Linked DNA regions of Homo sapiens: regions 1, 2 and 4 are each linked to region 3. The links come from fine-mapping of genetic effects on gene expression. A gene starts in region 3. Each other region holds a variant in brackets. All regions are shown on one strand. Distances are from middle to middle. Region 1 has its middle 24 kb from the start of LINC01940. Region 2 overlaps TWIST2 (twist family bHLH transcription factor 2). Region 3 holds the start of TWIST2 (twist family bHLH transcription factor 2). Region 4 overlaps LINC01937 (long intergenic non-protein coding RNA 1937).

Evidence for each region.
Region 1: its variant is fine-mapped to the expression of TWIST2 in whole blood (INTERVAL, PIP above 0.99).
Region 2: its variant is fine-mapped to the expression of TWIST2 in whole blood (TOPMed, PIP above 0.99). The same link has a PIP of 0.9 or more in neutrophils.
Region 4: its variant is fine-mapped to the expression of TWIST2 in fibroblasts (GTEx, PIP 0.93).

Annotation. Positions count from the first base shown.
Region 1 is chr2:238,946,193-238,954,296 of GRCh38, reverse strand. No RefSeq gene overlaps it. Among named protein-coding and RNA genes, the nearest start is that of LINC01940, 24 kb to the right of the region's middle. The variant A/T (reference allele first, on the strand shown) is at 4,928.
Region 2 is chr2:238,905,965-238,914,068 of GRCh38, reverse strand. It overlaps TWIST2 (twist family bHLH transcription factor 2), which reads right to left. Exons shown (of 2, transcript NM_001271893.4): 2 at 3,535-4,227. Among named protein-coding and RNA genes, the nearest start is that of LINC01940, 16 kb to the left of the region's middle. The variant G/A (reference allele first, on the strand shown) is at 4,786.
Region 3 is chr2:238,843,782-238,851,885 of GRCh38, reverse strand. TWIST2 (twist family bHLH transcription factor 2) reads right to left here and starts at 3,801. Exons shown (of 2, transcript NM_001271893.4): 1 at 3,153-3,801. The coding sequence starts at 3,670. The coding sequence ends at 3,188. It overlaps LOC100287387 (a long non-coding RNA gene), which reads left to right and starts at 3,979. Exons shown (of 1, transcript NR_157851.1): 1 at 3,979-7,340. RefSeq lists enhancers at 2,290-2,800, 2,801-3,310, 4,844-5,354, 5,355-5,865.
Region 4 is chr2:238,724,694-238,732,797 of GRCh38, reverse strand. The region is part of intron 1 of LINC01937 (long intergenic non-protein coding RNA 1937); the gene reads right to left. Among named protein-coding and RNA genes, the nearest start is that of LINC01937, 8.8 kb to the right of the region's middle. RefSeq lists an enhancer at 1,835-2,334. The variant A/G (reference allele first, on the strand shown) is at 4,583.

The DNA.
Region 1 (8,104 bases), 100 kb before region 3:
GAAAAGGGTTAAAAAAAAAAACTTCCAGAAACCAGGAGAAACAAAGGATTTTTCAACTCAACAAATTACATCTACTAAAAATCTACAGCTTATATAATTTACGTTAAGGAGGCAGAATGCGTTCTCTCTATGATCAGGAGTGAGGCCAGGGTGTCTGCTCTCACCACTTCTGTTGGACATTGTGCTGGAGGCACTGGCCAGGGCAATGGGGCAAGGGAAAGAAATGGAATTCATACAGGTTGCAAATGAAGAAATACAACTGTCTTAATTCACAGGTGATAAGATCTTCTATAGAGAAAATCTGAAAAGATCTAGTAATAAGCTATGAGGAGAAATAAGTAAGTTTGGCAAGGTTGAAGAAGAGCAGGTCAAGGTTCAAAACTCAATTGTATTTCTATACACTAACAAGAATTAAATGGGAATTGAACTTTCTCAGAAACTATCATTTATAAGAAAATAAAAATACAAAGTACTGTAAAATTAGTATAACAAAAAAGTACAAGACTAGTGCACTGAAAAAGAAGAAAAATACACAGAAATTAAAGATTTATCTCAATAGAACATTATATCATGTTCATGAATCAAAAGTCTATACCATTAAGATGTCAGTTCTCCTCAAATTGATCTATGATTAATGCAATCCTAAGAAAAATTCTAGCAGCTTTCTGTTTTGTAGAATTCAGCAAGCTGATTTGGTATTTATAGAGAAATGCAAAGGATGGGCAATAGTCAAAACATTTATTTCTTTAAGTAAAAAGAGCAAAGTTGGAAGACATATGCTACCTGATTTCAAGGCTTTGTATAAAACTACAGATATCAAGGCTGTGCAGCACTGGCATAAGGACAGCTGTGTAGATATATGGAACAGAACAGAGCCCAGAAAAACACTCGAGCATATGTGGTCACTAGATTTTCAACAGAGGTGCCAAGATAATTCACTGGAAGGAAGGACAGCCTTCCAGCAATGGTGCTGGAACCATGGGTATATCTGTGTAAAATAAAAGAACCTCTACCCTTACCTCACACCACATACAAAAATTAACTTGAAGTGAACTGTAAACCTAAATATAAAAGCTAAAACCCTAACATTTCCTGTAAGAAAACATAGGAGAAACAGATGATTAGAAAAAATTTCTTATTTAGGACATAAAGTAGGCCAAAAAAATTGATAGATTAGACTTTATGAAAACTAAAAAGATTTGTTCCTTTCAAGGCACTATTTATAACTTTAAGATGGATGATGCATTCTTGAAGAAAATATTTTCACATCTATCTGATTAAGGACTCACATCCAAACTATATGGGACTCTTACAAGTCAATATAATAAGAAGACAAACATTCTGATTAAATAAATGGGGAAAAGATTTAATGCACATTTTACTTAAGAAGGTATATGAATAGTTAATAAGCACATGAAAAGGCTCCCAACTTCATCAGTCATTAGGGAAATGCAAACTAAAACCACAGTGGGATTCCGCAGTGTACTCACTAGAGAGGCTGGAATTAAGCAGACAGACAGTACCAAGCGTGGGTGAGAAAGTGGAGCAACTCTACCCTCCTGTGTTGCTGGTGGAAACACAGAGTGCTACAACCCACTTGGAACCACAGCTTGGCAGTTGCTTATTTACAAAATGATCTGGCAACTTCACTTTTATGCACAAAAAGATATTTATGTGAATGTTTATAGCATCTTTATTGCTAACAGCCAAAAGTTGGAAGCAACCAAAATGTCCACTGACATGGGAACAGATTAACAAATTGTGCAGTATTTGTACAATAGAATGCTGTTCAGAAACAAGAAAGAAACAATTATGGCTGCGTGGAACATCATGCATGAATCTCACAAGCATAAAGTGAATAGAGGAGTCTGATGCAAGAGAGGAAACAGCACATGATTTCATTCTTAAAACTCTAGAAGAGGCAAAACTGCAGCACCAGGGAGAAGACCGATCACTGCCAGGGCTGGGTGGAACGGGATTGGCTGCAAAGGAGATGAAAGTACTTTCTGGAATCATGAAATTGTTCTGTATCTTGATTATGCCCAAGGCTATACTCCTTTAATTGTATACCTAAAATCGGTAAAATTCATTGAATATAAATTATAACTCAATAAAACGGATTAAAAATACATCAAGGAAGGACATATCAGCCAAAACAAGCAAACATGAATTTCGAAAACTATAGAAAATAAAATGAAAGTCACAGTTAAAATTCATTAGATGGGTCCAAGGGAAACCTATATTGATAATAAGAATCCTTAATGAAAACACTACCTGTCACACACTTTTTTGTATGAGCCTTGTATAAATCAAACACACTTAGAAATGCGAGAGCAAATAGAAACTCAATTTTTGTGACAAATTTTAACACAGATCTTCTGACCATGCGGGCAGATCAGGAGTAAGAAAGGGTGCACTTATTTCCAGAGATATGTTGGTCGGGTCGAGGAAAGCCATGTGAGGCAGTGGTTCAGCACGTGGGCATTTAAAACCAGATAGAAGGCCTGGTTTTAAATCCACTTTTGCCCTTGATTTTGAGTGTGTCACTGGACAAGTTTCTTAACCTAAGTCTCCGTCCAAGGTGTTAAGTTCATGGAGTTAACTGAGAAGATCCGTAAGAACAGCCCTATTGAATAGCAGCTTCAGAAAGGCAAAGAATATCACCCTTGTGATTCACTGCTGCATGCCTGGCACAACGCAGGTGCTCAAATGTTGTCTTGAACAAATGGGTGCGAACATCATCTTCCTGGCACCAAATAAACCTTCAATAAATTATACTCAGCATTATGCTTGATTAGCAGATATTTAACTTCGTCTCTAAATTTTCTTTTTAAGCATTCATAGAATGCTTACCAAAAAAATTCCCATACCACGGGAAAAGAAGCTTTAATTAAGTCCAAAAGATAGACTTTATAGCAACATATTTCACCATAACTCATTAAAACAAAAAATCAGCAGTAAAGGAACAATCAAGAAGAAAATTCACACAGCCTTGGTAATTGTGAAAGTGCTCTCCAATGATGTTTAAGAAGTTTCACAGGGTCTGGTCTCTTATTTGTCAATTCTTATTTTTAATGTGTATCTTTATTTCCTATTATTTGAGCAAATGGTTTTCTTGTCATTTTAATCTCTGTTCTCTTGCTCATTTGAGATGCTTTATCAGGTTTGTTCTTCCCTCTCAGGATTTAAGTTTCTTTTCCTGCATTCATTCACTCAGCAAACACTGATGGAGCCTCCCTGCCCTGCCCAGTTCACAGAGCTTTGCTTGTGATCTTTGTTGTCCAGGGAGGAATTTAGATGGTGTCCTCGCCCTTTCTTTCTGGGGCTGCCTTCATTCTGCAGGGGCGGGTCCCGCTGTGTGCAAGCTCCACCATCTACGCCAGAGCAAGGGCTGGCGGCAGAGCCCTGGCCTGGCATCTGGGAGGTGAGATCTTGCCTGCTCCCAAGCTGGGGACTTTGGTCTCCCCAGCAGTCATGGAGAGGCTGAGATTCTTCTGCAAAGGAAGCTGTCCCTCCAGGTGCCCGCCTCACAGCCCTTCCTAAAGTCACGTGACGCACCAGGAGGGAAAAGCCCAGCTCCTTTGCTCAACCCAGCAGGGTCCAGGCTTCGGTGGTCCCTTGATGGACCGGAGGAGGATGGAAGCTCTACATCGGGCAGCTGGGGGCCTCCCAGGGTGAGCAGCCAGTGGGGTGAGTGGGAGCTGCTCCTCCGTCCTCCGGCTCAGTATGCCGCCTGCAGTGTGCGCAGCTCGGGATGACGGCTCAGCACATTTCTGTTGATGGCAGAATCAGCATCTGTCCCATACTTTAGTAATTGGCTCTTCTACCAAGTTTTAGTGTGGTTGGCCAGTTTTTGTGTTTTGGTAAATTTTCATCAATGTTTTAACTGTAAGCAGGAGGCAGCTCAATCTGGAGCTGTAGGCTCTCCTGAAGGTTAACCCTGGGCCTTGCCCCTGTCTCAGATGGACTAACTGAGGGCCAGAGAGGTTAATAAACTTGTCCAAAGCCGGAGCTGTTCGCCAGAGAAAGCCCACTCAGGATCCAGGTTTCTGCGTCCGAGGCCAGCGGGCTTCCCAGGAAGTCATTTTGCTCCAGCAGCCCTGAAGTTCAAAGACAGCCCCATGGGGGGTTTATCAGGGGCCCCCTTCCAGGGTTCAAGGGGTGTCAGTGAGGGCATCTGCTTACATGGTGGCCTCAGGGACCAAGGGCATACCAAGCCTGCAATGCCTGAGGAAAGGAGTCCCCTCTGCTCTTCCAGGCAGTGGGCATGTGGGGCCCACGGGACCAAGGCAGATTCTGAAACGTTGGTCTTGGACACAGGCCAGAAGGACAGTTGGCAACCTGCAGCATGTGGTTATTAAGATCCCATCTTGCAGCACCCCCAGACAGATAGTGCGCCCCAGTTGCTCCAGTAAAGAGATCTTCACAACCCAGGCGTTCAACTGCATCCCAAAGGCCACCACTTCCAGCGAACCTTCCAGGGGCCCAACTGATGCCTGCAGACACCAGACCTGGACATGCCAGGAGGAGATGTCATGCTTAGGGTCTTTGGGAGCTTCAGGAGCCAAAGAATCCAGTATAGTTACCCTGGTGAGAATTTAGGACTGGGTTTGGTTTTGAATTTTTTCTTTTTAAGGAAGACACTTTTTTATTGTATTGTTTGAACATTGAGTCAGCTGGGAACAAAGGAATGCAAGTTTGTCCTAAACAGGACTGTCTTCCGGCAGGAAAAGCACCCAGGAAAAGTGGCCACAGGGTTTTAGCTGCGGGGATGATCTTAGAGGAAAGAAACACAGTGAGCTATGCTGGTGCACAGCCAGGCTGGATGCAGAGTGGAGCCGTCCCTGCCAGGAAACCACCTGGGAGACAGTGCTCCCTCACCCTGCAGGTGGCTTCCAGGGGGAGAATCTGCCCCCTTCAGAATGGC[A/T]TGAGGATGGAATCCTGCATAGCACCAACAGTGACCAGCCTCAGGCATGGGTGCAGGGGTGAGCTAGCCTCATCCACAGCTTCCACAGTGAACTAGCTTTATCCACACACAATGATGACCTACCCTCAACCAAAGCTCCAGGGGTGAGCTAGCCTCATCTACACGCAATGGTGAACTAGCCTCATCCATAGCTTCCACAGTGAGCTAGCCTCATCTGTAGCTCCAACAGTGGGCTAGCCTCATCCGTACATTGATGGTGAGCTAGCCTCATCCACAGCACCAGCACCAACAGTGAGCTAGCCTCATCAGTGGCTCCAACGGTGACTAGCTTCATCCACAGCTCCAGAAGTAAGCTAGCCTTATCCACACACTGAGGGTGAGCTAGCCTCATTTGCACATCAATGGTGAGCTAGCCTCAGCCACAGCACCAATGATGAGCTAATCTAATGTCGTGCAAGTGTTCAGTCCAGACATTCTGATCCCTCCTCAGGGATGACAAATGGAATACTGCACACAACTTACAATGAAAAATCACCCAATTTTTAAAACTCAACAAATTTTTAAAGTGCTTTTACTGGCCACATACAGAAAGAAACAGTTTCACAGCAAACCTTGCTCCAGACTGCTGTGGTAAAGGATGGAGAGGTGGGGACAGGAGTGGAGGAGGGAGTGGGATGGCCATAGGAGGGGAGGGGAAGCTGGGTCCAGCAGCCCAGGATGTGGTCATGGTGTGACTGGTGCTGAGTAACTGGGAGGACTCAAGAGTGACGATGCCTGGACATCCTTCTATCTCTGACTCATGTTGGGAAGGTCTTTCAAACTCTTTTCATCTTGCAGAGAGGCAGAGCATTCTGGAGACCAACACTTCCTGGGCGGCGCTCAGAGTGGGTGACTCTGCAGAGAGCACCTGCCAGGTGTGATCTCGGACTCAGAGTTCAATCTGCATTTAGCTGACAATGAACTGCAAACTCTGAAAATGTTCACAGCCATGGAGAATAATCTAGAAATCCTCAGTCCATTGGGAAACAGTGTGGGTCAGGGAGTGTAACCAACAGCTGGAGGTGAAGCTGGGACCAGTCAGTGAGGTTAACCACACCAGGGAAGAGGAAGAGAAACCAGTCAGGGCCAAAACGGAGCTTTCATCGATGTCTGAGGGGGCCTTGTCCATCCTGTTTGTGGATTTGGTTGTGTGTGCCTGGGTATTAATTTCTTAGGGCCACTGTAACTGCAAACTGGGTGGCGTAAAATGACAGAAACTCACTATCTCACAGCTCTGGAGAACAGAAGTCCAAAACTAAGCTGTGGGCTGGGCCGTGCTCCCTTGGAAGGCTTGGGGAGGCTCCTTCCTGCCTCTCCCAGCTTTGGGTGGCTCCGCCCCTCCTTGGCTGGTGGCTGCAGCACTCCAATCTCTGCCTTCTGCTCTGTCTTCACACGGCCTTCCCTCTGTGTCTCTGTGTCCTCTTCTCCTCTTATAAGGACAACAGTGATGAGATTTGAGGCCTACCCCGCATGCAGATAATCTGATCTCAAGATTATCACCTTAATTACATCTGTAAAGACCTTATTCCTAAATAAAGTTGCCCTCTGAGTTCTGAGTGGACATGAATTTGCAGGGCAGGCTACTCTTCAACCCACTATGGTAAGTACCTAATTTGCTGCATATCTATTTTACCTGTATTAGTACTGATGGCAGTGGCTGTGCCACGCGGCCTGCCGCTGCCATCACATCAGCTGCAACAGGGAGGTGCAGCTGGGGTTGCACATTCTGTGGAACCAGCGGGAGCTGGAGACAAGTGAGAGCCCCACCTCTTCCAAGTTGGGATGGGAGCTCCCCAGGTGCTGCTGCAAACTCTGCCCTAAGCACGGCTGCCCAAAGCTGCAGACCCGGGCCTCCCGCTCCACTGAGCAGGCAGGGGCTCTGCCCTCCTGAGAGGGGGCTGCAGCCACCCAAATTGTGGCTGCAGACCTGGGCCTCCCGCTCCACTGAGCAGGCAGGGGCCCTGTGCTCCTGAGGGGGGGCTGCAGCCACCCAAATTGTGGCTGCAGACTTGGGCCTCCTGCTCCACTGAGTAGGCAGGGGCTCTGCCCTCCTGAGAGGGGGCTGCAGCCGCCCAAATTGTGGCTGCAGATCTGGGCATCCCGCTCTGCAGAGCAGGCAGGAGCCCCGCCCCTGCCCCAGGCACAGCTGTAGCCACCCAAACTGGGGCTGCAGACCTAGGCATCCCTGCACTCTTGGGGGGGCCTGGGAAGGCACTCTTGAGGGGGCCTGGGAAGGAACCCTTGTCCTTGCAGGCTCAGTGGTTTCTGGTCCTGCTGCCTAGCCTCTCCCCACTCCTGGCACCCACTTTGATCTCAGAGCAGAGGTGGGGCCAAGCCCAGGCACTTTCACAGCCCAACCAGGTGTGCACACACTTGGGGCAGTGCTGACATGCCAGCCCCCTGCCCCTTCAGCCCCCTCTGGACTTTGGGCACTGAGGAGCATGGGAGGAGAAGCTGAAGGAGAGTTGAGGGCAGCTGGGCACTGGCCTGCAGGTGCCCCTTGGTGCCAGCAACCTGGGTGCCATGAATGGCCACGGGAGGCAGACAGGCTCCTGGGCAGAAGGGGGAGGGTCCCCAGTGAAGCCCCAGCTTCAGGCCAGGGCAGGCATAAAGCCTGGGGGCTGGGCTGCCAGTTCTGAGGACCAGAGGGGGACATCATGGTGCTTTCTCCTGGGCCCATGCATGGCTGCCTGTGGACCAATCAGCATGCACTTCCCTGCTCTGAGGCCCAAAAAAGCCCCAGGCTCAGCCAGAGCAGGACAGAGGACAGAGAGATGACAGAAAGGATGGATGACTAGCTGCAAAGAGGAGCTACCATCTCTGCTGATAGCGGCAGACAACAGGATAACCAGCTGCAGAGAGGAACCGCCCACTCCAGGGCCTCCTCTCTGCTGAGAACTGAACACTCAACAGGACGACCTTCCCACAGAGAGGAGCTACCCACTGTGGGTCTCCTCTGAGCTATTCTAACACTCAATAAAACTCCTCTTCATCTTGTTTACCTTCTACTTGTCTGTGTACCTCATTCTTCCTGGACACAGGACAAGAACTCGGGCAAAGGTACCACTGGCCACAGAGGTTTCTGGCCAGAAAAGCAACACCCTAAAGATCCCATAACAGACCAAGATGGAGAAAGTG
Region 2 (8,104 bases), 62 kb before region 3:
AGGCATCTGTGGGGCAGATTGCCTCTGTACACGTTGGCCCCTACGTGTGGCGGCCCACAGGCATACCCATGCCACACACAGTGAGGTGTTCGACGAGCCTCCGATGGCACCGTTTCTATGACTGACAGCCATTTTCATGGCCCTGCAGGTGCAGGATAACACAAGGCTGCACCTGGCCTCTGTAGCCACGTGGAATATACTGCCTCTCCCCAGGACCCACCCTGCCCACCCAGGCCTCACTCTTCCAGACAGCCCATCCCCACTCTGCCTTACCCAGAGGCTGTCTGGTCTCCTGTGAGGGTCCCCACCTCCTCTTCTGGGGTGCTCAGGGCTGCCAGCAACCCTCCAAACTATGTCACTCAGAGCCACACAGCATCCTGCAGATGGCACTGGGGCTGCAGGGAGACGGCTGACCTGGGGCTGAGTTCCCGTTGCCTCTTTGCTGCCGCATGACTCCCGGCTCCCATGGGGCCTGTGTTCCATCAGCTACAACCTGGAAGTCCCACCTCTGTCTGCAGTCACTTTCAAAATCAAAGAGTGAGACTTTTCCATCAAGACGTGTTGGTCTTGGCCACTGCACAGGCCCAAGGCTGTGTTTCAGACCTGAGGCTGAGGACCTGCAAAGGAGCCCCCGCCCCCAGCATGTCTCGCCCTGCGGGGAAATTCAGACTCAAGGCCCCCACCTGCCTGGCCAGCGGCCCTCCCTCAAGGATGGTCTGCGATGCCAGGGCCTGGCTGGGTGCAGGGGTCCCGGCAGTGCTGCCGCCCCCTCCAGGTCCCCTCACCCCACATGTCTGCACCCAGGCTCCTCAGGCTGACCTGGTCACCTGACAGCTGGGGACTCCGTCGGGCTGCCTTTGAACACAGGCGGAAGTGAGATGGGTTTGGGGTAGGTTTTCCTTTAGACAGCCCCTGGGGCTCGGAACAGTCTCCTGTTCTGCGGACTCACCAGTCATCTGACCCTGAAAACATGTGCACACCAGCTCACTCAGGTCTGTTCTCAGGGCCGTGACTGCAGAGGGCTCTGGTTGACCCCAGAGAAGCTGTGAGACCCCAGAGCAGGAGCCAGCACAGGGAAGTGGCCCCACGACATGCCTGGGGAGGAGAGCCAGCAGCAGGTTATGGGAGAGCAGGTACCTGCGTCCATAGTCCATAGACATGCATCACACACATGCAAATACACGCGTGCCAGCGTGCGTATGGAACCATAGACACACACACACGTGTTCCGGAAGCCAGCGTCTTTCGGCACCTCTTCCAGGAATGTGTGTGTGGGGGTGAAAACAGGAAGTGAGCCCGTGTCCACAGCCGCGTATTTCCACGTAGCCTAAGGTGTCGGTGACCCGCTCCTTGGATGCCCAGAGTTGGAGACAAAAGCCCCAGGAGAGACCCCAGGAGAGGCCAGGGCTGGGGGAGGAGGACACCCTGATGTGGCTACCAGAGTGTGCAGCAGTTGGGCTGGGAACAGGCAGCAGGCGGTGATGCCCGGAGAGGCGGCCGCCGCAGGGAGGCCCTGGGATGACCCCCCCGGCTTGGTCACTGCTCTGAGGCCCCCACTGAACTCCATCCCTGACCTCCCACGTGGGGCCAGGGTGCCCCCTCATTTGCACGGGGCCCTTTCATTCCTTGCCCCTTCTGCCTGGGGCTTCGGTGTGAGCACTCACAGGGCTGGGTCCCCCACAGAGGTGACAAGAGGCTGTTGCTCACCAGGAAACCAGGCTCAGGGCACCGGGCAGAGGAATAACGAAGTTTTCAACTTGGAAACCAAGAAAGAGGCTCCTCTGGCCCCACTGTCCGCCAGCTTTGCATTACATGACTTGGGATTATTTCTATTTGAATCACGTCAGGAGGGAGGGCACCGTGGCCTTCATAGTCTTCGTGGCCTCCACGGGCCTCAGCAGAGCATGCCAGACAGTACTGGGGAGGGCAGGGCCTTTCACTGCTGGGACCACAGCTGCCCCATTCTATCTCCCCAGAGTCTCGTGTGTGCACATGTGTGCATGTGTATGCTGGTTGTATGTGCATACATTCATGTGACCTGGGTACGTGTGCGTGTGTTTGAAGTGTGCCAAGTGTGTTCACACGCATTGTGTGTGTGGTCTGTGCGCCTGCATGTGTGTGTGTGATGTGTGCATGTGTGTGTGGTGTGTGCATGCGTGTGTGTGGTGTGTGCGTGTGTGTGGTGTGTGTGCATGTGTGTGTGATGTGTGCGTGTGTGTGGTGTGTGTGCATGCATGTGTGTGTGGTGTGCATGCATGTGTGTGTGATGTGTGCGTGTGTGTGGTGTGTGTGCATGCATGTGTGTGTGGTGTGCATGTGTGTGTGGTGTGTGTGCATGCATGTGTGTGGCATGTGCATGTGCGATCTGGGCGTGTGTGTGTGTGTGTCTGTGTGCTTGTTGCATGCAGTGGGTTCTGGCGCTTGTGCTTCAAGGATCTGTGACCTAGACAGGCGCTCCCGGTGATGCCAGCCCCAGTGGAAGCCAGTGCTGCATCAAGGTCACCAACAGGAGCCAGATGGAAGCTGAGGCCATGCTGGTGTTTCCGGAGCTCCTGTCCTTGCCGTGGTGGACCTGGGGACAGGGTGGGAGTGGGAAATGAGGCTCGCAAGCCACCACCATCCTGCCAGAGACCCCTACTTCCAGAACCTCTGTCTAGGAGCTGGGTGGGCTCTGTGTGTCCACTGCTTGGTGGGCAGCTCCACCCAGCAGACCCCGGTACCAGATGTCCCCCAGGAGACATGCGTTTGGTGGCTCAGGGTAGTGACCTGGTGACTCTCAGTCTCCAGAGCTGGAAGCCTCCACCCTGGGGTCCACAAGCAACACCCAGCCCCCAGTGCTCATGGGTGCTGGCATGGTAAGGAGGTAGCGGGCAGGGCATAGAGCCCTTGCCCTCATGCAGAGGTGCCCGCCTGCACCAGACCCAGGCTGACTCTCCTTGATGGCAGATCATGTTCCTTCTGGGATTTCTGGGCAGGATGCCAACCTAACCTGCACACCCAGGTGCTCCATTCTTAGCCAGCTGCCTGGTGAGCTCATGGTCAACATGGCACGGATGCATGTGGAGCAGACGGTGACTCGTTCAGAGAAGCAGGGAGGTGGTGGCACAAATGAATGCCATGCTTGGGAGAGCAGGGAATACCACCCAGGGTGAGCAGCAGGGAAGGCTGGCCCGGACTTTGGACAGCAGGGGTGGCTCACAGAATGGGCACGCTTCTGTATCAAGAGCGGGGCGTGGGTGTGACAGCAATGGTCTCTTGTGCTGAGGCTGCTGGGGAGCAGCAGAGGACTAGGCACTGGGAAAGGGCTGAGGCCCCCTCTGCTCTCCCAGGCCTCGGTCTGTTCACACTGGCAACCATGTTAGAGTTGGTAGTTTCTAGAAATTTCTACAAACATGCACAGCATAAAATGTCTCACATCCTCTCTCGTGCCTTTTAAAGTGAAGTAATAGTGATTCTTGCAACCTGTTCTGACTCTCTCAGGCAGAGCCCTGAGCTGCGAAGTAGAGATGAGAACAGAGATGGGGAGACCATGGCTGCGCGGACGTCTTTATTTTTCCTGGGTGGGGAGCAGGATACACAGCCACACTGCAGTCACTTAGCTTGTAAAAATATCTCAATAAATAAAACAAACAAGCAACATATACACTGAACAGAGAATATTTTTTTTTAAATGGCTAGCCAAGCAATCACGGAGAAAGGAAAAGAATAGCGGCGTGAAAGTAAGAATTCCAGGCTGACTTGAAACAATCATGCAGAGGCTCGGGGGAGGGGAAGGAACTCGGGGGTCCTCTTCTGAGAGCCTTGGTCCAGTTTCAACAGAATTGTACAAGAATGCATTTCTGTTTTATTAAAAAAATAGACATTAAAAAAGGCACTTAGAGGGAAATACAAATTCAAAATCCAAATCCTCATAAATGTGTTCCTGAATCTAGACATTTTCAGAAAGAATAAACCTCCCCCCAAACATAAGACCCAGAAGAAAAATCCAAACAGAAACAAGATGACCATGACAATGTCACCAGCAAGAGGGCTGGGAGTGCCCTTCCTATGTGGGGACCGTCCTGGGGGAGGACGGGAGCCCGGGTCTTCTGTCCGATGTCACTGCTGTCCCTTCTCTCGACGCTGGTGGAGGGCAGAGGTGGGGGCCTCCTGAGGTTGTTCAGGTTTCAGAAGTTACAGACTCGAATGCATCCCAATTCCACTTGCGCCGCCGACGCGACGGACAGCCTGGAAGATACGGAAGGGGGACCGTGAGCTACGGCCGCCTCGCTCGGCCTCCTGCAGGATCGTCCTGAGACTGTCCCAAGGCTGGGTGGGACGGGACACGGGGCAGGCCCTGAGAGAGCTGGCTCTGTTCTACTCATGTTCCTCCCAAAAGACACTGGGCAGGTGACTGCTACGGGGCCAGCCCAGGCTTCCGCAACCCCTGCCCCCTGGGCCAGGCCAAGCCCTTTCCCTCCCCCGAGTGCCCTTTCCTGCCCCCGAGTGCCCTTTCTCACACTCACCACCCCGGGGCCTCTCCCTGGCCCGTGCTCAGCGCAGCCATGAATGCGGTCTGGCTGTGGGTGAGCCCCTCAGAACAGGCTGCCTGGGGACAAGAGAGGCTCGGCACGTTGGCCCCGTGCAGGCCCGAGGGAGCTGTGGGGTTTCGGGCAGCAGAGGGCTGGGTTCCAGCGAGGAGGACGCAGAGAAATGGGTCAGCCGCTGGCGGGAGCTGTCAACGGCGGATTCTTGCTTTAAAATGCGTGCTTTCAAAACAATTGCAGACACACGGGAAGTTGCAAA[G/A]ACAACACAGAGATGTCCCATGTGCCTTTCACCCAGTTTCCACACATACCACACCCACGAACACACCCCACCCCACATACACACACACACCAAACATACCACACACTACACACACCCCACACTACACACCACATACACATACCACACCCACGAACACACCCCACCCCACATACACACACACCAAACATACCACACACTACACACACCCCACACTACATACACACCACATACACATACCACAACCACGAATACACCACACCTCCACATACACACACACACCACACAAACATACTACACACTACACACACCCCGCACTGTACATACACACCACATACAAATACCACACACACAAACACACCACACTGCCACATACACAAACACACTACATACACCACCACACACCACACAAACACACCACACCCTCCCACACACAAACACATCACACACACCACACACCACACAAACATACCGCACACTACACACGCATCCCACTGTCCATACACACCTCATACACAAACACATACCACACACAAACACACCACATCCCCACATACCCACACACACACTGCACAGCACAAACACACTGCATACTACACACACCCCACACACTGCACAAACATACCACATACATATCCACACAGACAACATACCATATGGTATATTATATACCACATTATATGCCACACATACAGTGGTGTCGTCACGTCACACCCAGGCATCTGGCACCAGTATGGACCAAGAGCTTATTCACATGTCACTCGTGTGGGTGTGTGTGGTGTGGGGTATGTATGTGTGGTATATAGTGTGTAGTGTACATGGTATGTTGTATGTGTGTGCATGTGTGTGTATGTGGTATGTGTGGTGTGTGCAGTGTGTGGTATGTTTGTGTGGTGTGTGGTGCATGTGGTTTGTGTTTGTGTGTATGTGGGGTGTGGTGTGTTTGTGTGTGTGGTATGTGTGTGTATGTGGTGTCTATGTACAGTGTGAAGTGTGTGTGTAGTGTGTGGTATGTATGGTGCATGGTGTATGTGGTGTGTGTTTGGGGGATTGTATTTTGTATGGGGGGTATATGTGTACAGTGTGGCGTGTGTATGTGTGTGTGGTGTGGGGTATGTATATGTGGTATGTAGTGGGTAGTGTGTATGGTATGGTATCTATGTGTATGTGTATGTGGTATGTCTGTGTGTGTGGTATGTTTGTATGGTGTGTGGTGTATGTGGCGTGACTTTGTGTGTGTATGTGGGGGTGTGGTGTGTTTGTGTGGTATGTGTTTGTGTATGTGGTGCGTATGTACAATGTGGGGTGTGTGTGTAGTGTGTGGTATGTTTGTGTGCCATGTGATGTGTGTTTGTGTGTGGTGTAGGTGGTGTGTGTTTGTAAGTGGGGGTGTAGTGTGTTTGTGTGGTGTGTGTGTATGTGGTGTGTATGTACAGTGTGGGGGTGTGTGTGTAGTGTGTGGTATATTTGTGTGGCGCGTGGTGTGTGTTTATGTGTGTAAGTGGGTATGTGGAGTGTTTGTGTGTTTTTGTGTGTGTGTTGTGTGCGTTTATGTGTGTGTTTGTGTGTGTATTGTGTGCATTTGTGTGTGTGTGTGAGTGGTGTATGTGTACTTCCTGCAGTTTCATCATGCGTGTTGTTTCTTGCACCCCCCACTATGATCAAGACACACAATTCTTCCAGCCCCACAAGGTCCCCTCATGCCACACAAGTGACTTCTAAGCGCACTTGTGGGCCAATCAAACTGTGGGTGTGCCAGGCTTGGTGCAGCTCTGGGGCTGCAACCAGCTGTCCCGGGAGCGCCTTGGGGAAAGAACCCGCTCAGGCGCTACCCAGAGCCTGGTTCCCACCTGCAGGGGGAGGAGACACAGGCAGGAGGAAAGTCCAGGTCCTCCAGGAAGCCGGGGTGGGGACCCCAATCCCGCGCCTCCCTCTGTGCCTGCCAAGCTCAAAGAGAAGGTGCTGAGAGGTGGCCGGGGCCAGCGTCTGAGACCCAGGGTGTACAGGGATGTGGTGTCATAAGCCCAAGGTCTTGGGCCACCTCAGTGGGGCCCACAGGGCAGGGGACACGCCACTGGCATCAGCACCTGGTCGGGAGTGTGGCGAACACAGGTGGGCCCCGCGCCGCGCCTCAGGGCCGCTTCTGCCACACACCCAGGCCAGCCTGCAGCAGCCCCCAGGCTGTGTTGCTGTCCTGCCAGGAGACCTGAGCTCTAGCAGGGATCGCTGAAGACTGGCCCTGCGACCTGGGACCTTTACTGCTCACCACAGGGCCTGGCCGTGTAAGTGCTCACTCCCACACCTCTTGCACAAACATGAGAACAGCCAGTTGACCTGCAGAGCTCGCGGGAGGTGAGTGTTCAGCGAGAATTATTGGAGAACTCCCCTGAGCCAAGGGGCAAACCAGCGCAACGAGACCCTCCTCCCGCAGAGCGGCTGAGCGTGGTGGGAGGGGTGGGTGTCAGCCCAGAGGCAGGCATGGGCTCCCCAAGGCGGCCGCCAGGAGAGGGGTCACCGTGAGGATTCTGCCACAGGGAAGGAGGTCCAGGGAGGCCCCAGGCACTGGGGGGAGGATGTGGAAGCTGGAGGGACGGGTGACGTGGTGCTCGGTGACATCCCGTGTGTGTGTCTGTGAGTGTGCCCACTAGTGTGAGAGTGAGTGTGAGTATGAAAGAATGTCCAGAGTGAGTGTGTGTCCATGTGCAAGTTGTGTAAATTGTGTGAGCATGTGTATCGTGTAAGTTGGCCCGTGTGTGTGCCAGTGTGCATGCATGTGTGTGAGCATGTGCATCCATGAGTGGGTCTGTGTGTCCCTGTGGGAGTGTCAGTATGCATGTGTATGTGTGTGTGCGCATCCGTGTGAGTGCATGTGTTTTCCCGTGGAAGTGCTGGTGTGCATGTTTGTAAGTGTGTACATCCACGTGAGTGGGTCCGTGTGTCAGTGTGTGTGTGTAAGCATGTACATCCTCCTGAGTGGGTCTGTGTGTGTGTCCCTGTGGGAGTGTCAGTGTGCATGTTTTTGTGTGGGTGTGTGCATCTGTGTGCGTGGGTCCGTGTGTGTCCCTGTGGGCGTGGGTGTCTGATGTCGCACAGCAGTGTGCAGGGGGGACGTGTGGTTCCGCTCCTTCACCCCCAGCCCTCTCCCAACCCCCAGCCCCAGGCTTCACCCCAGCAGCCCAGGTCCTCAGAGACCTCCAGGAACCTTTGTTGAACCAAGGCAACAGTCTGAAAAAGCCAAGACGTATTTTCCCTGAAACCCATGCGTATGAAAACCACACACGCACACGCACACACGCGCACGTACACGCGCGCGCACACACAC
Region 3 (8,104 bases):
AAAGACCCACATTAACAGGTCAAATCCCTACATCAGATCTTATTGATGGGTATTTTGTAACCAAACATTGCTTATATTCCAGGGAGCTCAGCCTTTCATTCTACTTCTTCTAGGCAAGCAAAAGCTCCATTGGGATTCTGCATTTCTGTTCTTCTCCACGAAGAACTGATTTTCTAGCATCCTGAATACAGCAGTTAACAAACACCTATGAGAAGTAAATTTTCAGGAGGGAGGAAAAGGCTCACATATATTAGATGGTGAAGGGGTCATGCAATTTCTTCAAAGTAGCTAAAAGTTCTCAGAAAAAAAAAAGTTTGTTGAGTGAGGAAATCTACTGAAAATCTGTGCACACTATGCAGAAGTTAGAGAAGATGTTTTCTTTAACCACACAGCAGGGAACAGGACAAATGTCTGATAAGTAATGGTCACCTTCCCCCACCCTCCAAGCCAGGTGTCTGGGACCCTGCTCCGAAGACTCAGGCATTTAATGAGAATACTAAAAAAATCCTTTTGAGATTTTTCTATTAGATGAATCCAACTGACTGGACAAAGACACCTGATTTATTGTCTAATTGTGCTTTTAAATACCAGGCCAAAGAAGAAAGGCAGGATAGATATCGGCAGCACCCGCACTCCACCATCTCTTGCGTTTCTCTTCCTTTCAGAGGACAATTTAGGCTTTGTGCTGCTGTTGCTGTTAGTCTTGACAGTTTTCTTCACATACGTGAAAACATCCCACATCAAACATTAAAATCACTTACAATGTACTGAAATGTCTAGAGATTCTTTGCTGATGCATATAATTAATGCTTCTTAGAAATGCTACAAATAAAAACAAATGCTGTTTAGCAACATTTTCAGGAAATCAAACCAATTATAATCGTATTGATCTTATAGGGAATAATGAGTTAAAGACAAAAAGAATGACAAGATGTCTGCCTAACGTGCCTGATAAATAAAAACAAGGTGTGTCCAGAATCATTCATGGATAAAATTTTTCCATATTTCTTTTCTCTTCTTTTAGAGTATCTATTTAATGAAACTAGCTTGTTTGAACTACTCAGTTATAGTCCAGTATGTAAAAATAAAAATAAATAGGCTCCTTATAGATCATCAGCTCTCCCACTAACTGTGTAATTATCTATTATATTTTCAAGGGCTTTTTTCCAAACAAGCTCTTGGCACTGTTTTTATTTATTTATTACATGTATTGCATTTTATTTTTCTATAATCTTTAATGGTTACCTATGGCTGATTCTCTAAGTTTTGAGGAGTGCGATTATTTTTAAATGAATTTTAAATGTTCCTACTAAATTCTAGCAGCATCATATCTACTGGTATTTGTTTTCAGTAATTTTCTGGAGGGCAGTCTTAACGATAATTAAAGTGACATTTTCCTTAAACACGGCTCAATGTGTGTGTTTTTAAAAAGATGACATTCCTCATCTGTTTGTTCTTATTTCAGATGTGCTATAAACCATGAATGAGGTAAAGCATAAATGGAAGTAACTAATGGAAGCTCATTATTTAGGCAGCAAAAACCAGAATTAATGTATTACCCCACTGTAGCGTTTAGTACTCAGCCAATCCAAACTTTCCTAGAGAAATATGTGATTGAGACACTTTCCATCTGTTTTTGACAAAGACAGGAGAAGATTCCCACAAGTTATTTTCTGCTGAAAATTATTTTTTAAAAACTATACAATTATCATTATCTCAGGAGGCTCTGCAGCTACAGAATTTTCAGTGACACCAAAATAAAAGCTAAAAAAATGAAATAAAACCCACCTGTGCTGGATCAGCTTTTCGTGGCCTCAGCAACAACATTCGCAGATATTATAGAACCACATAAAAAAAGAAATAGATATGTTTGGGAGAATAGGCGGCCGGGTGCTCTTGATTAATCTAAATTCCTTCTGTGTGAAGTAGAGTCTTTTATAAAAACATCGCAAGATGTGCGAGGAACTAAAACATACTAAGGGGGAAGGATTTTTAACTCGGCCCCAGCAAAAAGAACTCTGTGCCCCTCCATGGCCCTGGATGGCGGATGAGAGAGGGGCTCGCCTGCTCACAGAGCCTAAGGACGGCGCCTCCGTGGCTCGAGCTTGTCTAAAGGGACTTGGAAGGTGTCTGGTGAAAAGGACCCGGTGCAGGACGCCCTAATCGCTCTTCCAGAGGAAACCAGAACTTGGAGTGCTCCTGGCAGCTGTGTCCCCCGAGCCTTCTCCTCGCGCAGGGCCCGGCGCGCACAGCCTCCCTGTCCCCCAGACCCGTTTCCCAGCCTGGACCCCTCGCCCATCCCTGCGGGGCTGGATGGGCGGGGCCCCTCCCGGGTACTCCAGGGTCAAGGTTGGGACTCAGGGCTCCCAGTTCCTAGGTCAGCTCCACCTGCCTGCGGGCGCCCTGGGGCTCCGCGCGGCTGCGTCGGACCCGCCTGCCTCAGCGCTCCAGGCTCTGCGCTCTCGGCCCAGGGCCCTTCTCGGGCACACCCGGCCCTGTGGCTGCTCTGGCCCCGAAGCGCAGGGCAGTTTCCTCCCGTCCTCCCCAGGCAAACCCTGGAGCCGCAGGCCCGCACCTCTACGCCCACTGGGCAGGCCAGGGCGCCGACGGCCGGGGACCCCAGGCGCGAGCAGCTGGGTAGATCTGAGTGTCCGCCCGACGGACGCGCTCTACCCTTGCCCAGGAAGAAAGCGAAGCCATTCGCCCGGCAACACCCGGCTCGGGCAGCTTCGCGGGCGGCCTGCGCTGCGGCGGACGCAAAGGGCAGCTGGTCCTCATATCCCAGTCCCCAGCCGGCCCCAGGAGGTTTTTCTGATGCTCGCTCCTTCCACCGCCAACCACGGACACCCACACACCACCGAGAATGAAAACTGCGACCATCTGTCTAAGTATCTTCAGAACCCGCCGGGGGAGTCACCGGTCCGCCGGTTCCCAACTGACACCCTCGCGTGGAAGTCTGCACTCAGGGGTGTCCCTGGGACTGTGAGCGTCCCGCCCGCCCGCCTTCCTTGCTAAGAGGAAAAGCGCACGGCATCCAAGCCCCCGCGGCCCGCGGGGCCTCGCCGAGGAGACACGAGCAGGCCCCAATGCCCCTGCGCCCCTGCCGCCCGCCCCCCGCAGCGGAGGGCGCCCGTCGCGCGCGCAGCACCTACCCTGGCGCGCCGGTCCGGAGGTGGGTGGCGCGGCGCTAGTGGGAGGCGGACATGGACCACGCGCCCTCCATGCGCCACACGGAGAAGGCGTAGCTGAGGCGCTCGTGGGCCACGTAGCTGCAGCTGGTCATCTTATTGTCCATCTCGTCGCTCTGCAGGACCTGGTAGAGGAAGTCTATGTACCTGGCGGCCAGCTTGAGCGTCTGGATCTTGCTCAGCTTGTCAGAGGGCAGCGTGGGGATGATCTTGCGCAGCGCCGCGAAGGCCTCGTTGAGCGACTGGGTGCGCTGGCGCTCGCGCACGTTGGCCAGGATGCGCTGGCTCTGCAGCTCCTCGAAGGACTGCGCGCTGGGGCTGCCCTTCTTGCCGCGCTTGCCCGGGGTCGGGCTGCCATCTTCGCTCGACTTCTTGCTGTAGCGCCGCTTCCGGCCGAAGCGCTTGGGCTGCCTCTCGAGCTCCTCCTCGCTGGTGCCCAGGCTGTCCACGGGGGACACGGGCGAGCTGGAGCCCTCCTCCATGGCGCCCGCCCGGCGCGCGTGGGGCTGGGGGCGCCGGGGCGCCGAGCGCGCGCCGCTGGCCAAGCCCGCGGTCGCCGAGCACACGCTCTCGGAGTTGCTGGAAAGGCTCTGATTTCAAGGCCGGCTTGTGCAAAACCGAGGTCTCCGGGAGAGGAAGTTATTCTAACTTTTTTGGAAACTCTAGCTGGGCTGGGTTGCTAAATAGTTGTCAGGAGCTAGGGCGGCGCGCTGATTGGCCGCGGTGGCCGGGGGCAGGACAAGTTCTGGGGCCTTCGCCGGCCGCCCCCGCCCCCCGGCGCGGCACTTTCAGTTTTGCCTCCCCCTTCGGCCCCGGCGCGGAGGGCATCCCGGGGGCCGGGTCCTCGCCCGCCGCCCGCGCCCCCACCCCGAACGCAGGGCACTCTCAGGCCGCCCCGAGCCCTAGGCCCGGCCAAGCCTGGCTTTGTCTACGCCTCAACGTAGAGATCGGCCCCCACTGGGCTTTGGGGGGTTCTCTCTCTGGGCGTGAGGGGCTAGAGAGGCGAGTCCAGTCCCAGATGCGCTCCCAGAAGATGAGGACGCAGCCAGGAGCCTCCTCGACCTGTGTGGGTCTTGGCCGCCCCCGGGCGCACAGCTAGTCTGCACCGCGGCCCGCAAGCTTAGGCCTGGGGTCTGGGGAGCTGCGCGGGCAGGGGTCTCGGTGTCCGGACCGCCAGTGTAAGGACAGTCGGGGCCCCCTGGAGACGCCCGTGCCCAAGGACATGCCGCCAAGATCCGTGGAGATGCCACCCTTCGGCCAGCGTGCGTGTCGGGGACCATTTCTTACCCTGGCTTGCTGGGGAGCCCCGGCCCCGACGCCCTTCCCGAACCTTCCTTCTAACAGCTTTAAAACAACGCCACAGCGAGCCTCTGCGGGAGCGCCCGGTACCCGCCGCGCCCGCCTGCCTGGCCCTACCCGGGTTGCTGGGCGCGGGTTGGGGCGCCTGCCGGCCCGCCTTGTACGGCCCCAGCCTCTGCGCTCCGCCTTCGCTTCGCGGGTCAGCAGAGGACGGAGGGCGCTCCGGGAGCTGCACGAGGCTGCCCCGGGCCCAGCCTCCGCTGCGCTGGCAGCCCGCGGGCAGCTCCGAGCAGGAGGCTCAGGGTGGCTGGAGTGTGGGGCCCGGCCTCGGTGAGCGACACCACGGACCCCGGCCCCGGGCCATCTGGACGGCGAGCGCGAGCGCGTTTGAAGTGGTTGGGGGGCTCTTTGTTCGCCAGGCCGCTCTGGCTCTGGGCCTGGAGGTGGTTTTTACGGCTTTGATGCCTTTGAACCTATTCCCAGGTGACCCGGGCTCAATTAGGCCCGGGCCTGAGCCGGGCTGTCAGGCAAGCCGCGTGATCAAGGGCGGGCTGGGCCCTTTTATTGAAGTTGAACCCGAGACCGGGGAGTGCTCGGCCTCCGCTGCTCCTCCGGCCGGCCAGGCGGGCCGCGAGGTGGGGCCCGCGGGCCACGACCACCGCGTTGGGAAACCCGAGGACGGCAAAGAGCGGGCCCTTCGCGCCCCTGTCCGAGGGCCCTGGCTCCGGCCGTTCTAGGGGACGTTTTACCAACAATCCGTCCAGGAAGGCAGAACGCCTAGGAGCGGGCCCTCGCATGCATGTGAGTCGGTAGCAGCGCCCTGCGCAGTGTCCGCGCACCGGACCCGCGGCTTCAGTTCGGTGCCTAAAGGTTCTGCAGAGCCACCGCACCCAGCCCCACCCGGCCTGACCGCCCTCCTTCCTCCGCGCTGGGAAGGCCCACGGCCCCTCTAGCCCAACAAAATAGCTTTCCAGGTCCCTTTCTTTAAAATTCTCAAATAAAAATTTAAGGAACGAGAGAGAGAGAGAGAGAGAAGCCAGGTCCCCAGCCGTCCTGCCGGTGCTGGGCTGCAGCCCTTCCTGGGGCTTCACGTCAGATGGAAAGGGCCTGTTTTTCCCGAACTGGCCTTTCCCTGGTTTCTTTGCTCAGAGCAGTGACAGTAGCGATTTGCTGCCCTTTTACCAACCCTGTGTGGGTCCAAGGACCCAGATCCAGGGACATCTTCCCTTTCCCAGATGCGGAGGGCTTTTACTGAGGAGAGGACCTGCCTGGTAGCCTGCTTCGCCATCCTCGTCTCCCTGTCTGCGTGCCCCTGTGTCACTCTGGCTCTGTCGGCGTGTCTCTTTCTCTGTCCTTTCTGTCTCTTTCTCCAGCAGAGAGAGTTCATAGTTTAGTTTGAAAGAAAAACAGCTCAGCTTTGGTCCTGAGCAGCCCAGGGCTCAGCCCAGCCCTGAAGACCAGAGGCCCCGGGGACGCCCTGGAAGGGCAGCGCAAGCTGGATTGCAGGCTCACCTCTGCCTGGGGAGATGGACCTGGAGGATTTCACCTGCGACCCCCCGGGGCGCCCTGGAGCTATCATAACCAGCAGCCCAGTTCAACCGTCTGGATGCACTTTCTTCATGGCGTGTCTTGTCTATTTTAAAATGCTTTAACAATGATTATAGTACTGGAGGCTGTGATACTGACGGCTGCCTGCGGAAAACCTTGCTTAACAGAATTTGGAGTGACTTTCTTATGCTGTATTGCCAGCCCCTCAGAGTCATTACCTGGGCAGTGACCCCTTGCATACATAGGAGAAGCTAAGGCACAGTGGCATTTAGCAGCGTTTCCAATGTCACCTGTATGTTGGCTGGGGAAGTGACAGCATTCCCCTCTTTTGAGGAGGGGAATTTGCTGAATTAAAACCCAAATGAAAATGTCATCAATTTGGGAAATAATACTCAGGTTATTGATTTAGTTTGAGTTTTTCTTTCAAAAATTAAGTCAGTGATAAGGCTAATAAAGCCAATTTATTAATAGCATAAGTAATACAATATATCTCTGTGTGAATACTCTTTGCAGGACCACCCAGGCTCACTTGGACTTCAGTAAAATATCACGCAACAAAGATTCACAGAAGTAAATACAGTTCTTGGGGTACTTATTCATTACTGAGTATGGAAAATCCTGTGAATGCTTCCTTTCATATATGTAAAAAAGTGTGCTTTGTTTCATGTGACTTTGTGTTTTTTAAAAAAAAATGAACTGGTGTTCTGAAAGATTCTTCTATTGCACATTTTCCTTAGGGCAGCAAGTAACAGAAGGTGATATGTTTTCACAGCAAATTTGCCAGCTATTAGATTGGCTTTAATCTTGCTGCAGTAGAATGACACTGCAGGGATTGTCACCTGGGGATAGTCTTCAAGAATAGCAGCCAGGCACGGTGGCTCGCGCCTGTAATCCCCCAACTCTTTGGGAGGCCAAGGCAGGTGGATCACCTGAGGTTGGGAGGTCGAGACCAGCCTGGCCAACATAGTGAAAGCCCATTTGTACTAAAAATACAAAAATTAGCTGGGTGTGGTGGTGCATGCCTGTAATTTCAGCTACTCGGGAGGCTGAGGCAGGATAATCGCTTGAACCCAGGAGGCGGAGGTTGCAGTGAGCCAAGATCATGCCACTGCACTCCAGCCTGGACGATAGAGCAAGACTGTGTCAAAAAAAAAAAAAAAGAAAGAAAAGAAAGAAAAAAGAATACGACGCAATTATACAGCCCCTGGGCTTTCTTAGGATAAGAAACTGTGTACTTGCTCAGATGTGAAAAAAATTTAGTAAACTCTCAGGAGCTAAATAAAGCAATGAATTTATACATTTGAATGCTGTTGTCGCTACCTTTTGTCAAAATGCCTGCACGGGTGAACCCACCTGAGCTCTTCAGCAGATCCTTTTGTAGTTTAACTCTATGAAGTTCTTGTTGGAGCAAGAGACAAAAACCAAGATATCGTTAAAGGTCTAGTTTCCATTCCCAGTGACATGGTGGGTTGTTACCTCCACTTGAATTTAGTGAACTGAGAGCAGATGACAGAGCAGCCCATATTTGTGTGACAGAATCAATCCAACAGATTAATGAATCAATGACATTGATCCGGGGGTTGGTAACAGCATCTCCCAAACAGCACTTCCTTATTTGCAAAGCAAATAGCATTGGCGCAGTAGCAGTCTTACACTAACACAGCGCTCCACTGACACTTTTCCATCAAACTAGTCTTGGTGCCTTCATTTTGAATTATTCTCTCGTAGACTGAGATGACAGTGAACATGACCCATTATTTTAAGAAACCACAAGTTTTCAGAGATGGACTCTTGAGAATTATCTGACAAAGTTTTGGCATTTCTGTGTAGATTCTAGGGGTCTTCAGCATCATGTTGCTGAATGCTAGAAATATGCTGTCTGGGAAAAAGCTATCCTTGTGCCATGTATTGTTGGCTTTATTCTGGCAATACTTTATGCCTACCTGCAACCACCTGCCACCCCCCAAGATTTCAATCATCCAGCACATTCCCCAGTGTGATAGAGCAGCGGTGAGGGTTGGGGGTCACTGTAAAAGCATTTTTCAGTTCTAAAAACCAGGGTTGAAGAT
Region 4 (8,104 bases), 120 kb after region 3:
ATTTAGAAATGGACAAAAGACTTGAACAGATATCTCATGAAAAAAGATGTACAGATGGTGAATTAGTATATAAAAAGATGTTCATATCCATTTGTCACTATGGAATTGTAATTAAAACAACGAGACACCACTATTCACCTGTTACAATAGCTAAAATCCAAAAATCTGACAATTTCAAGTGCTGATGAGGGTTCAGGGCAACAAGAATTCACATACATTATTGGTAAGAATGCAGAATGGTACAGCCACTTTGGAAGGCAGTTGGCCATTTCTTACAAAGCTAAATACAGTCTTACCCTAAAATCCAGCAATTGTGCTCCTAAGTACTCACTCAATTGAATTGAAAAAGTATATCCATACAAAGACCTGCACAAAAATGTTTATAGCTATCTTATTCATAATTGCCAAAAACTGGAAGAAACCAAGATGTTCTTTAATGGGTGGTTGTACAAGCAAACGGGTACATCAATACAATGGAATATTATTGAGCAACAAGAAGAAAACCACAGAACTGTGAAGACAGGGAGGGACCTTAATTGCATATTGCAAAGTGAAAGAAGCCAGTCTGAAAAGGCTGTGGTCAGTATTTCTGTAAATCTAAAACTGTTCTAAAAAAAATGTGTATTCATTTTGTAAGAAGTTTTAAAAAAAGGGGAAAAAACCCAGAAACTTTATGAGGAAGTTATAGACTTTCCGAAACAGCATTAGATTGTCCCAGGGCTTGGAACTGGAGTTTGAGTCAGTCTTGCTCAACTCCCAGGTGGCTTCTAATTCACACCACAACCTTCTGAGACTAAGCGTTGGCTTTAATGCCCAGTTGTAAATAAAAGTCTGGAAGTCTGGTTACTGCACGCCTTTTCACCCAAGAAGTCCTCCAGACGACTTCCTTCCAGCTTTCTCAAATTCAGGGCTAAGTTGTAATTGTCAATAGATTTTACAAGTCCATACCTAGTTCTGCCTTGACCATACACTCACAAGCTCATCACTAGTGGTGCAGACTGCACAGTGCTTCCTAAGGCCATTCTCCACCTGCCCATTCCGTTCCCAGCATGCATTGTGCCTGTACCACTTCCTGAAAGTCTCAGTCTCCTTGCTCTTTCACCAAAAGTTCATTTATCTGTTTTTTTTTTGTCAACCTGAAATACTTTAAAGTGTAACATACAAACTGTAAAATACAGAATTTTTTTCAATGTTTATAGACATATAGGCATAATTTATATTATTCTTTGTGAGAAAGAGTCTTGCTCTGTTGCCCAGGGTGGAGCACAGTGGTGCAATCAAGGCTCACTGCAGCCTCAACCTCCTGTGCTCAAGGGATTCTCCCATCTCAGCCTCTTGAGTAGCTGGGATTACAGGCATGCACCACCATGCCCAGTAAATTTTTTTTTATTTTTTATTTTTTGCAGAGACAGGGCTTTGCTATGTTGCCCAGGCTATTCTTGAACTCCTGAGCTCAAGTCATCCTCAAGCCTCAACCTCTCAAAGTGCTGGGATTACAGGCACGAGCCACAGTGCCTGGACAATTTATATTCTTTATATGTAATCTTAAATGCATTCATTCATCTCAATGAATTTTTACAAATGAATAAACTCCTGTAACTATCACCAAACTCAAGATACAGCACGACCAGCATTCTGGTTTTTTTTTTTTTTTTAACTTGCCAGATGGAGATAGAATGTATCTTTCTCATCTCTGTTGTTTTAAGTTTTATGCACATTTCCAATGCAGTCCCAGCATTTTCAGCGCTCCATGTCTTGACTCACTGGCGTCCATTTTAAATGTTTCCTGCTTGCTGCCTGCATTGATTCAATGTTGCTTTTTACCAAAACAGAGGAACTATAGTAAACTTCTTCAACTTAGAGCCTTCTACTAAGGGGGCTGAATTTATTAGATTGGTGCAAAAGTAATCGCAGTTTTTGCACCAACCTAAGAATTTTATGATCATGATTGCCACATGGTTTAACTTCAAAGCAATTCTGTGCTTTTTGCAGAGGGGAGCTGAGGCTTCGTGGAGTTGAAGGTGAATTTCCCAGGCAGGCGGGAGAGACTGTACTGAGAGGGCTCCCAGGGAACCCAGCTGCATTCAGCCCAGCACTGTCAGCAGTGGAAGGACTTACCTGACCACCCACAGGGGCTTGCCTTCCACAGGCATGTTCTCACACTCCAGCCCGCGTCAGACTCACCTACAAGGCTCTTCATAGCACAGGCTTCTGGGCCCTATCCCCAGGGTTTCTGATGCAGTAGGTCGTAGGGTCTCAGATTTTGCATAGTTAACAGGTCCCCGGGTGACGCTGGTACTGCCTTTGGGGGACCCCACTCTGAGAACCGCTGTGTTGCAGCAAGCTGGGTCCCAGCAGCGATGTAGGGAGGGGCAGGCTGTGCTAAGCCTCAGCTAACAGAGCGGCCGTCCACGGCTCCTTCTGTCTGAGGTCCCTACTGAGGAGGGAAGGAATTCTTCCCAGAACTCAGCAACCCAGGAGCTTTCCAGGGCTCTGGGTACCTCTTCCTGATCCGTGGTTCTGGAAGACTTGGGGTAAGAAAAGTGCCTAGGCCGCGAGGTCCTAAGGCGTCTTTATGGAGACATTGCCTGGGATCATGGCCAAGGCTCAGGCTTCAGGGGCAGGAGCTCCAGGCTGGCCATGCACTAGTTATTGACCGGGCAGGGGCAGGAGCAGTGCTAGCATGGTGCCTGGCACAGAGCAGCTGTCATACTTTGCACACGTTTTGGCAGATTTTTCTTAGATGGTGGTATGGGGGTCGTTGAAGGAGCCCTCTTGTGTGCTAAACTGGGCTTGGACCACCTCAGCTCTCCTGAAAAATGGGCAGGGACTGGGAGCCTCATGGGTGTCATACTAAGTCTGACCCAATGACTGAGACAGAGTAAACAAGGGGTGGTCTCTCTGCCCCCTGAGTTCACCCTGTTACTAAGACCCTCGTCATATTGAATTTCAACGGCCTGGTCACCCATGAAGTTCTTCAGCTGGACCGGGGTTTCTCAATCTCGACACTGTTGACACTTGGGCCTGTATAATCCTTTGCTCTGGGGGCAGGGCTGTCCTGTGCATTATAGCGTGTTTAGCGGTATCCCTGGTCTCTACCTACTAGATGCCAGCAGCAGCTCCCTGACATCAAATCACAACAGCCAGAAATGTCTCTAGACGATATCCAGTGTCTCCTAGGGGCAGAACAGCTCCAACTGGTAACTGCTGAGTTACACTGGGAGCTCCCAGGAGGGAGGAACCACACCTTCCATCCCTGCACCTCCAGGACTAGCACACAGTAGGGGCTCACTAAGGGGACATCGAATGTATCCAACCTGCCTGGTCAGATATTCAGCATTTCATGCTCATTATGACATTTGAGTCTCAAAACCACCCGTGAGGAAGACTCATGTGAGAGATGAGGAAACCGAGGCACTGCAGGTGGGACCACTTGCTCAAGATTTCCTGGCTAATTAGCAACGGAGGCAGGACTTGAACTCCATGCTCTGTGCCTGACTGATTGGCCCTAAGACCAGGGTGACACCCTCTGTCCTACTGGCTTGCTTCCTCAGCACAACACCCTCTGTCCCACTGGCTTCCACAGCACAGGAAAGGAGCTCATGCCTGTGTCTGGACTCATGGCCTCAGGCAGGTCCCAATTTCTTTGTCCTTCCCCGCAGTCTCTCCACGGGGCACTTTGAATTCTGCCAGGCACAGCCTCCCAAGTTCACGTTGCTTTTTGAGGAATGACTTCAGCACTAAAACATGTTTCACATTTAAGGTTAGGCAGGCCCTGCTTACAGCGGGAGCTTACAAGATCTCCAGCCCTTCTGGGGAAGGATATAAAAGGCTGACTTGAATGTTATGAAAGCTTAGGAAAAAAGGAATGCTAATGATCATACAAAAATAGAATGCCAAAGGAAGCTATTGCCAAACTGAAACAGGACTCAGATTCTGGGATAATGGACACATGAATCACAGCAAAGGGAAAAAAAAGTGAACTGGCGTTTCCCCTTTCATCGAAGTACTGATGATCATAAGATAAATCATGTTTGGAGAAGAATCAGAATGATTGGATTAAGTTTTACTGCAGTGTTTCTGACTAATCTTGGACCCAGGCAACCTAATTGAAAACTTACATCTGCACGGAGCTGGAGAGTTTGAACTCTCCAGCTTTAGTAACTCACCGCTGCAAGGCAGGCCCAGGCCCGGGAGTGCCTTCCTCCACATAACTGCATCGTTCTGAAGACACAGATCCAAAAACTCGATTTTCCCACTATGATTTTACCCAGAAACTTCTCTGAATTCGTAGATTACAATCAGATAATGGTCCATGACGTGAGCATCCCTTTGCCTGGCAGGCTGAAAGTCAAGATAGCCCTAGCTCCAAGCAAGCATTCCTTTTTTTTTTTAATGAGAGAAAAGAGGCAACAATTTTTAAGTGACCTTGCTGTTTGCTTTTGTGAAGTGAAGTGATCTCCCCACTGCTGCGATTTTAATAAGCCCGCAAGTTCTCCTAGGTGCCCTCCAGGGAGGAATTTCATTGTTCATCTGCACTCAATGTTCCAGAAATACCCTGCACCCATGAGCAAATCCTAAC[A/G]TGACTTCCAACTTGGGAGTGGAATTTGCCAAATAAATGAGCTGTTCTAACTGAATGTCCCGGGCCAAGGCTGGCTCCTGTGACGATGCTCTCTGCTGGGTCTACAGGCGGACCCTGTGGTTGACAGGCTCCCAGATGTGCACCCCTGGGCTGAGCTCTGCAGCCCAATGCCCCTCCCATCCACTGAACAGACCTGGACCATTCCAGAGGGGCCAGCTTCCCTCTGTGACCCCCAGCCTCATGCTTCCAAAGGAGGGCAGGAGATGACAGCGTGTGGGGGCACAAGGGTAGAGAGCAGACAAAACAAGAGCTCACTGAGAAATGAGGCAGAGGTGTTGTGCAGGTGCCAAGGGCCTGGGTTTTTGACTCCTACAGAGCTGGGTAGGAACCCTGGTTCTTGTCTTTCCCAGCTGTGACACCCTCAGCAAGTTACGAAAACCATGCAACCTCCAGATATCTCATCCATAAACCGGGTGTTGTCATGAGAATGGAATAACACGATGTGCTTAGTAAAATGGAATGTCAATTACATCCACATCCCTGAACAAATGAGTCCACGAAAAGCATGGTGCAAGTGGAATCTATAGTCACGTGTAAGTCTTGTTATATGCAAAAGCATTACTCCTTGCTGGGAGTCTCTCTCCACAGGACTCGATGTGCCACACAGACAGAAACAGTCCCCGTTGCCTTGTCCTTTGCACCTAATGTCACACCGACACGGAGGAGATACTCGGTAAACATTTGTTAAGGAAAGAAGAGCTTGGCACGGGTTCCCTTTTTCTTCCACCTCAACCCCAGTGCTATCCTCAGGGACCCCTCATTCCCACCTTGCTCTGCACACATCTCACCTGGCCCTGGCCCTGTGCCCTCCTGACACCTATTTGGAACATTTCCCCAACAAACTTGGTATTCCAGACTCAGAAACCGGCTGTCGGCATTGGTCCTGCCACTGTCTGCCTGCCTGCTTCCGGGCATATTGCTTCACTGCTCAGAGCCTCAGTGTCCTCGTTTGCTCTTCCATGAGACAGTCATAGTGCGGGTTTGCAGCAGACCTATGGCTCTTGAACTGTACTCCACAAAATCCCACGTGTTTCTCCCGCCAGAACCTCTGGAGGCCTCATCTCTGGGACCCCACCCTTCACATTAGCCAAGGCACCCTACTTTTTCAGTGAGCAGCTGCTGAGAAAGATATTGCTTCATTTCTAGGTGAAGTTTCGTCCCTCTGGACTGAGAGGTTCCTCCTCAATTCTATCTGTGCTGCACAGGGCCCAATTTGGGACCATGAGGGATATGAGATGTCCCAGAACGAGACCATTACTTCTTTCAGGACAAGAGGTTAATTCAGCAATGGGGAACCCTGCTCTCTGTGAAAGGCTTCCCCACATCCAGAAGCCGGCCAGGCTCATGTTTCCTTGGGTAGCGAGACCTCCAGAGAGTTTGGGTCTTTCCTACAGGACACAGGCACATGCAGAGATGCTGGTCTGTTCTAAACTACCCATTCTAGGCCAGGCATAGTGGCTCATGCCTGTAATCCTAGCACTTTGGGAGGCTGAGGCGGGAGGATCACTTGAGGCCAGGAATTTGAGACCAGCCTGTGCAATGTAGTGAGACTCCCATCTCTACAAAAAAAGAAAAGAAAAGAAAAAAGTAGCCAGAAGTGCTGGTGTGCACCAGTAGTTCCAGCTACTCAGAAGGCTGAGGCAGGAGGATGGCTTGAGCCCAGGAGTTTCAGGTTACAATGAGCTATGATGGTGCCACTGCTCTCCAGCATGGGTTGCAAAGTGAGATCCACTCTCAAAAAAAGCAAATAAATAATTTGAAAACATATTAAACTTTCCTTTCAAAACATTCACCATCTCCTGAACTTTGTCTTCACCACTGCCCTAGAACACCTTGCCTACTTCTCAGACAGAATGAGCACCGTCTTGCCCACCCTCTTGCCCACACTTCCTGTCAAGCCTTACACTATCCCCAGCAGCACCACTGACTTCATCACAAAATTGAGTGGCCACACGCCTTAGACCATGCAGGCTACCATAATAAAATACCACAGACTGAATATTTATAAACAACAAAAATTGATTTCTCACAGTTCTGGGGGCTGGGAAGTCCAAAGTCAAGATGGATTTGGTGTCTAGTGAGGGCCCACTTTCTGGCTCACAGATAGCACCATCTTGCTGTGTCCTTACTGGGTGGGTGGGACCAGCTAGCTCTCTGGGGTCTGTTTTATAAGGGCACTAATGCCACTCATGAGGGTTCTACCTTCCTGAGGCAATCACCTCCCAAGGCTGCTCTTTCTAATACCATCGCATTGGATATTAGGCTGCAACATGAAACCTACATTCAGACCACATAGATCTGGTCAATATGGAGATGGTTTTAGACTGTTTATCACTTACACTAACGGCATAAGCAACATCATCATAATGTCAGCTTTCCACATCCCTAGGATGACACCAAATTGGAGAAGCCAGATGACAGACATGAGGAGTGGGTTGCTCCATTGGGATATCTCACTCTAAAATACAACCAAGCACCTTTATAGCTGGAGCTATGCCCTAAGGGGGGCATGTGGAAAGTTTTACTTCTCACTGGAACCAGGGAAGTGGATAAGACAGTGTCTTGTGGCAGCCCCTCACAAGACAGGGAGCCTCCTATAGGACAGGGAAGTGGATGGAAAATGACCTACAGATGACCCTTACGAGACTGCCCTGCTTGCTGAATCCCAGGAAGGATCACAGAGTGTTCTGCCAAGACATGGGTCCGACTGAGGCTGAGACTCACCTACGCAGAGACGCCCAAGAGCTCCATGGGGGAGCCTTTCCCTACTCTGTCCTCCTACCTTCCTTCTCATTGAGGACAAGGTGTCTGTCCTCTTGTCTAAGGAGAAACTCACCCTTAGAACCTTGGATTTACTAAAACTCTCATTGAAAACCTATTTAATCAATGATCATCCTCTCTTCTGAATCTCCTTCCTACCCAGCCCCTTAGCCACACCTACCTTAAAAAGCACATAATCCACCAAAACATATACCTCTAAGTCTCCCCTGGCTCCTGATCCTCTCTGGTCCTTTCTGAGTGAACTCTCTGACCATCCCCTGAGTGAATCCATTCACACCGCAGGCTCCAGCTGCCCTCTTTTTGCTGGAAATGCCTAACCTGACTCCCGCCCCGTCCTCCTCCAAGCTGCTGCCATGGAACTCTTGCTGATGGAGTTTATCCACCTGAATGCCAGAAAGGCATCTCAGATCCCATGAGTCTGTGCAACAGCCGCGTCTCTGTCCCTTGAGCCTGCTGCTCTTCCTGCCTACACCTCCAAGAGCACGCTTACAGAAGCCAGAAATTCGGCAGGCAGCCTAGACATTCTTCTCTTGTAGCCCTGACATCCAGTATTTATTTAGGGCTACGCTTTGTTAATTCTTAAACATATCTCTTTTTCCCCCTGTACTTCCCTTTAGTATCACCATAGTTTTTGCATCAAGATATATAACCTCATTAACAGGTTTCTTTTGAAAGCTTAGT